Linked DNA regions of Homo sapiens. The protein of the gene in region 2 interacts with the protein of the main gene of each other region in a pairwise test. Each region holds a gene or a part of one and is shown on either strand. Other genes may lie near its edges.

Region 1 (3,754 bases), on a different chromosome or scaffold from region 2:
TGATTTAGTGTAGCTAGGCAATTTCTAGCATATTGCAAGTATCAACATTCTGTTAATGTGACTGGGCACAGTGGCTTACACCTATAATCCCAGCATTTTGGGAGGCTGAGGCAGGCGGATCATTTGAGGTCAGGAGTTCAAAACCAGCCTGGCCAACCTGGTGAAATCCCTTCTCTACAAAAAAATACAAAAAAAAATTAGCCCAGCATGATGGTGGGTGCCTGTAATCCCAGCTACTTGGAAGGCTGAGGCAGGAGAATCGCTTGAACTTGGGAGGCGGAAGTTGCAGTGAGCCAAGGTCATACCACTACACTCCAGCCTGGGTGACAGAGCAAGACTCTCTCTCAAAAAAAAAAAAAAAGAAACCCAACATTTTATTGTTACTTTAAAAAATGTATTCAGTGGAATCTAGGTACTATGGCAATTTAATACCTACCATTAGCTATTGGTAAAAAATACATGGAAAGCTTTTCTCTCCCCTCCCCCGCTCTTGCCCTCCCCTCTCTTGCCCCTCCCCGTCCCTTCCCCCGCTCGCTCTGTTGCCTGGAGCTGAGTGCCATGGTGCCATCTCAGCTCACTGTAACCACCTACTCCCAGGTTCAAGTGGTTCTCCTACTTCAGCCTCCCAAGTAGTTGGGACTACAGACGCGTGCCACCACACCTGGCTAATTTTTGTATTTTTAGTAGAGACGGGGTTCACCATGTTGGTCAGGCTGGTCTCGAACTCCTGACCTGAAGTGATCTTGCCCGCCTTGGCCTCCCAAAGTGCTGGGATTACAGGCGTGAGCCACCGCGCCTGGCCCGCTTCTCTTTAATAATCAATAATTTTATGTCTTTCATTTTTCTCCTTTCATTCATATCAACATTCTACTTCTCTCACAGAATTTCATCTTACTGCTTCCCTCCCCTGTACCCCCGAGATGGAGTCTCGCTCTGTTGCCCAGGCTGGAGTGTAGTGGTGCCATTTCGACTCATTACAACCTCCGCCTCCCAGGTTCAAGTGATTCTCCTGCCTCAGCCTCCTGAGTGCCTGGGATTACAGACCCCCACCACCACGCCTGTCTAATTTTTGTATTTTTAGTAGAGATGGGGTTTCACCATGTTGGCCAGGCTGGTCTTGAACTCGTGACCTCAGGTGATCTACCTGCCTTGGCCTCACAGAGTGCTGGGATTACAGGTGTGAGCCACCGTGTCCGGACTACATTTTTATGCTTAAAAGCTTTTTAAAATTAGTCATTATAATTCTCTGCAACAAAACTACGTGTATACATTGAAAATTAAAAAGTTTTTCTGCGCTCTTAATATTCTGAGAGTTTAAGAAAATTATGATTGAGACATCATTACAGTGAAAATTAATACACAGTACATCAAAGCAAATGTATCTCATTTTGATTAAACACAGCAAGTAAAATTTGTTGGAAATGTATCTTTAAGTGTGCGGATGAGACTTTTGCTCTATTAGTTTAATTACCCATGGACAAATATTGCCAGCCTGAAACAGCTTTTAATGTCCACTTTAAGAACTTCATTCATTTAAATAAGTTGGGGACTAGAAGGGGTTTTGTCATAGCAGCATCACGCCACTCTCAGGCCCTTTTGCATTCCATGTCGGAAGCCTCAGTTCCTAAGACTCACTGGTAGTGATCTCTGCAGAAGAGTGGAGATGCAGTGAGTCGAGGAAAAATGAAGCATTTCCTCTTCTCTGCTGTGGGAGTCGACAGTGGGGGACGGGGGTGCACACATGCCACACCAGGCAATGCCTAAGAAACTTCTCGTTCACCCCGTTCACACCTGTTGCCCCCACAGAGCCGATGATGAGCACCCCACCTCCTGCCAGCGAGCTCCCGCAGCCACAGCCGCAGCCGCAGGCCCTGCACTACGCGCTGGCCAACGCACAGCAGGTGCAGATCCACCAGATCGGAGAAGACGGACAGGTGCAAGTAGTACGTACCCTCTCCACCTCACACCTTGGGAAAGGGGGCTGCGGGGTGGGCCACGGCAGGGCCATGGCGGCTTCCACCGGTTCCGCTGTGTTTTGGGAGCACAGTGATAGCTTGGGAGGAGGCACAAGGTCCCCATTTAAAGTAGAGGTCATCGTGGCCATGAGCTCTTAACATTTCACAGGTGGGGGCGGCTGCTGCAGAGCCTAGGGATTGAAGCACATGGTGGGGTGGGGCATTCAGTCAGCTCACCTCAGTCCTGCCAGCAGGCAGGCGGGCAGTCAGCTCCAAGGGTCAGGCCGTGCGGTGGTCCCTGCCCCAGCTCGTGCTCCTGGGAAACATCGGAAATATTTCTCAGTTCAGAAGTGCAGGCGCTCTCTTACTGAGGGAAAGAGTAATTTCCTTCTAGGATCAGTGGCAAAAGCTTGAGGTCATTGTTCCCATGCAGCGTGTCCCTTGGAGTTACTCAGCACACCCAGGTTGGGCGGGCACTGTCCCAGCAGCAAGTCAATGTCCTGCCTTGCCCGTGCGGAGTTCTCTATTGGGGTTTTGTGACCCAAGCTGTGGTCAGCCTGATGCGCCTAGGGGCTTGCTCCCGGGTGAAGTCCCTCTACAAACACCTCCTGGATTCTGTGGCATGAGAGTAGGGCGTGGCTGAGAAGGAAGGAAGACTTTTCTGGAAGCTTTGCTGAGTGACTAGAAATTTTACATGCACCACTAGACCTCGCCTATGTTTTTAGTGGCACCAGCCCCCTTGGGCCCTCTGAAGACAGGTCATCGTGTGCCTCCGTGTCACCAGGGCTTTCTCCTGGAAACATGGTCCTCCACTATTGAGAGTGGGGCGTGGCTCTCATCTCAGTGTGGCTTCAGCATGCTGTCTGGAAGAGGGAAGGCTTCCGGAAAATTCTGGGGCTTTTAGAGGGGGCGTTACCCTTCCTCTTCCAAAGGAGATGAGACAGTTATGAATAGTGAATCTTATTTAATAAGCTTATTAATTTGTTTGACATTCACAACGGCAGTTCCTCTCATCTTGTTAGTAAGAAGTTCTTTGAAAGCGTTCCAGAGTAGATAACTTTGTCATAAGGCTTACATAGAACATTCTACAGGAGTTTATTTTAAGATCCATTTCGACTAAGAGAGAATTTCAAATAAGATAAGGAGTATTCGTTTCATTTACAGGTTTATAGGAATTATTTGTCTGCCCATATGTATAAACAGTGGATTCTTTGATTTTTTTTGAATCACATTTATTAGTGTTTACTGAAACTGTCTAAATAGTCATATGAGTGTTTCTTTGATTTGAAAAACGTTGCCTGCCCTGTTGTGAGTGTAGGCACGCCAACAGCTCCCCTGCTTCAGCCACACACTGCGTAGCCTCCCAGTATCCCCAGAGAGCTGAACGTATCATTTGAAAAGAGGTGTCATTGTGATTTTCTATTTCCCCTCTTTTCTGTGTGTCATGCACATTTTAAAATTTACTTGTTTAGTAACATTTAAAGATGTAAATATCTTTCCTGGGACCTATTGCTCCTTTGTGAAGTGCTGGAAAATGTTCTGTGTTACACAGCAGCCCCCCCTTACCCATGCTTCCACTTTCCCAGGCTTTAATTACCCATAGTCAACTGTGATCTGAAAATATTAGATGAGAAACTCCAGAAATAAACAATTTGTAAGTTTCAGATTACATACTCTTCTGAGTAGTAGCATGATGAAGTCTGGTCGTCCTGCTCTGTCCAGCCCGGGACGTGAGTCGTTCCTTTGTCCAGCATGTCCAAGCTGTGTGGCACATATGGGCGGGAAAAAGCATAGCATAT
Region 2 (3,754 bases):
AATTTATGATTGCTATATTCTAGGAAGTTTAGTTTTATTTTGATGTTTCTGTGTGCAGCTCAGACCTTGGTCTTCGCATTAAGGCTTCACACAGACTCATGTAATGTATTTTACACATGTAGTTTATAGGTACAGAGATAATTCATACTCGTAAAATAGCTGTTGACATAACCAAAAAACTTGGAGGGCTCTCACTGCATTCTTTTTATTTAGTAGAACTCATGCAAAAGTACTTACGCTGAAATGTTAGGCATTCCAATTATTGTGGGCACGTGTCTGAGGTATTTCCATGGGAATTTATGGTATAAAAATGAAATGAAAATGAACAAAATACCATAGTGTACGCTCATCTCAGTGACCTGGTTTATTTTAAGTAATGAGAGAAGAAATTCCATTAGGTTTAGTTTTCCTCATTTAATATGTCTTTTCAAAAGTGCTTCTTACCAAAATCCTGGCATCATTGCTTTCGGTCTCTGCCATGATTAGTTTTTCCATATTTATTGCAAATTCTACTTTTAACATGCATTTTAGGTTTAGGTTGGTATTTTAGTTTATCCATTCACATGGGTTGTTGTTTTAATTTCCTTCATCTGATTTTGACATGATTCTGAGAAAGATCTATAAAGTAACCAGCACCATAGAATCATGGTATGAAAACTAATGAGAAGAATATTATGTTAATTATGTTCTCTTAGTCTCTACTCCACAGAAAGGTTTTAACAATGAAAAGGAATTGCTAAACTATAAGTGACATTTTAATTTAAAAAAATGAAAATGTGTAGTTAGAATCTTTCAGTGCTTCTCTTATTTTCTTCTGTGTGCTAGATACTTTTGGCTGTGGTGGGGGTATCATTTCTTTTGAAAGCATTACAATACCTATTCCAAGATTTTTGGTGGTGTTTCTTTCAAAACAAATCAGTGTAGTGCTTCACTTTTACTAACTTTCTTAATTAGAGCCATCCCTCTTCACTCATCTGAATTTGTCCTCCCTAAATCAGAATAACAAATGTACTTATCCCTGGTCACATACATTTTACTCTCTTTTCCCTTCAATCTGTGGAGAAGAAGCCTTCTTTGGCCTGATGGAATCTTTTCTCCTTGCTACTCCACCAGTGTTTCCTTACTTGCTCATATTCTGCTTCAAAGAACTACCTACATGTCCCAAAGCTTTTTACCGCTTCTGGATGTAATGATTTTCATTATTCTACTTAGAAAAAGGAACTAGGGTGAAGAGTTAGGAGACATTCTTCTTGCCCGTTTTCTGCAATTTTTTTTCCTTGTGACTTTGGGCAAGTTTCTTAACCTGTTGTAGGTTAACGTACCTAAGAGTGAGCTGGTGGTGAAGAACATTATTAACGCTGCAACCAGAAGCTCTTGAGTTTAACTTCTGCTGCCCATACCTACTGGCTGTGTGATCTTGAGCACATTAACTAGTTTCTCTGAGCCTCAGTTTCTTCATCTGTAAAATAGCAGTAATAACAGAACCCTTCCTCATAGGGTTTTGTGTGGAATGAATGAATTAACATAGCATAGAACAGCACCTGCCCCACTATATGCAGTCAATGAATATTATCTGCTATTATTATCTAATAAAATTGTCATAATGATCAAATTAGATTACTTTTATGAAAGAACTTATAAATCCAGTGGCAGCCTTGATTTAGCTGTGAGAACTACGTTTGAATCTTTGCTCTACTACTTAGGCATAAATTTCGTTTAGTCTCTTTCCTTTTCTGGATATCAGGTTCTTCATCAGTAAAATGGGAAATCATACTCATGGAGTCTCATGGGGTGTTCTGAGGATTCAGGGAATTCAATGAGAATCATTTCTTAAACTGCAAAGTATTGTGTCAATTTTACCTCTTATTATTGTTCTCCTGAAAAATTACAGAACTTTTCCTTCAAAATGGTCAACAATTTTATTTTATATTGTCACACTAATCAGAACTGGTTGTAGAATATTTGTGCCTTTGAATGAATACGTTTGTTTAACTTGTACTCATATTGAATTATAAACTCTTGAAGAAGAAAATACCATGCTTTCATTTTTTGATACAACATTCCACAGAATTGAGAGCATAGAAGGGGCTCAGTACAGAGTAACAAGAATCAAATGTGGTTGTTAAATGACTTGTAAGAGTTAAGTACTTAATTTACTCCTAACAACAAGCAAATACTGAAAATAAATCCGTGAAGTAGTATATTAAGAGGATATGTCTTAACCTATGAAGTCTTTTAATAACACTCATTTCAGAGAAGATGATACAAATCATTTTTGCAGAAAAATTTTTAAAATAATGAATACGTTCAAAGGCAAATGTAGAAAGAATTGCAAAATAGTATGCTTGTTTTTTCTAAGGTACTGATTTTTGAGAGTTGCATATGGAAGCTTTTGTGGAGCATACTTTTTTTGTGCAAATTTTTGTTTGTATTTGAAATTCCATGACTCTGTATACCCAAGCCTTTAGTCTATTTGTTTTAAAGACCAGGCAGGTCCTCCAACTCCACTAATGTTCTTTAAATGTAACATTACAGCTGAAAAAGAAAGGGCTATTGTTAATAAATCTAAGACCATGAGGGAATTGCCAAAGATTTGGCTACATTCCTGCATAAATTTGCACATCCAACTATACTATCAACCAGGCATTTTTCTGTGCCTAGATTTTAATGGATTTCCAGCAGACAGTTTCAGTTGTATTTCCTCTCAGCTGTTAGTCATACATACCATATTTGGGGAACTCTGAGTCAATTGAAGAATTTCTTACCTTTTGTGTTAGCATGTGCGTGCATAGAACATTCATTATACTGAGCATGTAGATGGGTACACTCATATATAATTTGGCTTATTTTGAAAATAAGTAGTATGGAAGCATCTCAAGCATCTTATATTTTATATGTAATTTCTATCTTCTAAAAAGTTTTTGTTAGATGGGCATTGAGGGCATGCTTAGTAAATGTTGAATAGTGATAATAGAATTTTTGCCTTATATTTTCATGAGAATTAGAAATTACGCCATTTTAATCCCAAGCACAGTTAGATTAGTACTTAACAAAAGCCAATTTTTTTCTGCTGCTTTGATATTCTGTTTATTTATACATGTTTAGAACTGTACACTGTTGTCAAATTATATAAAGTCCAAGAAGAGCTGTGACTGCAGTTCAGAATCCAGTGGACTGATGGTTCTGATGGCAGATAATTTAGAAATAGTACCTGTGATTTATTTTGCATTTCAAAGCCTCGTGGTGGTAAAATATTTTATGTGGAAGTAATGGCTTCTTGACATTCATCTCCCAGTGTATTTCTTGATCGTTAGAAACCATTTGACTATTACATAGATTCTGATGTGTCACAGTCACTGTTTTTGTAAAATATAATACATTATAGTATAGGGTTAAAAAATAAGTTATTACAACTGTATTTTACCTCTACTCCATTGCTAAAGTTAAAAGGGATTTCATTTTATATTTCTGTAAAACTTCAGGCTTAATCAGTTAAGTCATTTTGATATTCTTTGATTTTACTAGTTTTATTAATTCCTAAATTGGTGATATTAGTAGTACATGAATCAGGACTTTATAAAACTACTTGACCATGTATGCAAAATTAGGCCTCATCTATAAAATCTAAATGTTTTGTGTGTGTGTGTGTGTGTGTGTGTGTGTGTGTGTATCCCTAAGTAACCTTTTTTGATGTTGTAAAAGGGATGTTAAAAACTAATTCTTGCTACTTTTCTTTTATTTTTGGCTTCCAGGC

The links.
Region 1: the proteins of CAMK2D (region 2) and BANP interact in binary tests that used the Homo sapiens proteins (3 or more experiments, as listed by UniProt).

Annotation. Positions count from the first base shown.
Region 1 is NC_000016.10:88,031,303-88,035,056, forward strand, and holds part of BANP (protein BANP), read left to right. Parts: intron 1-1,806; coding exon 1,807-1,943; intron 1,944-3,754. UniProt on the Homo sapiens protein: Controls V(D)J recombination during T-cell development by repressing T-cell receptor (TCR) beta enhancer function. Binds to scaffold/matrix attachment region beta (S/MARbeta), an ATC-rich DNA sequence located upstream of the TCR beta enhancer.
Region 2 is NC_000004.12:113,755,089-113,758,842, reverse strand, and holds part of CAMK2D (calcium/calmodulin-dependent protein kinase type II subunit delta), read left to right. Parts: intron 1-3,752; coding exon of another isoform or gene 3,753-3,754. UniProt on the Homo sapiens protein: Calcium/calmodulin-dependent protein kinase involved in the regulation of Ca(2+) homeostatis and excitation-contraction coupling (ECC) in heart by targeting ion channels, transporters and accessory proteins involved in Ca(2+) influx into the myocyte, Ca(2+) release from the sarcoplasmic reticulum (SR), SR Ca(2+) uptake and Na(+) and K(+) channel transport.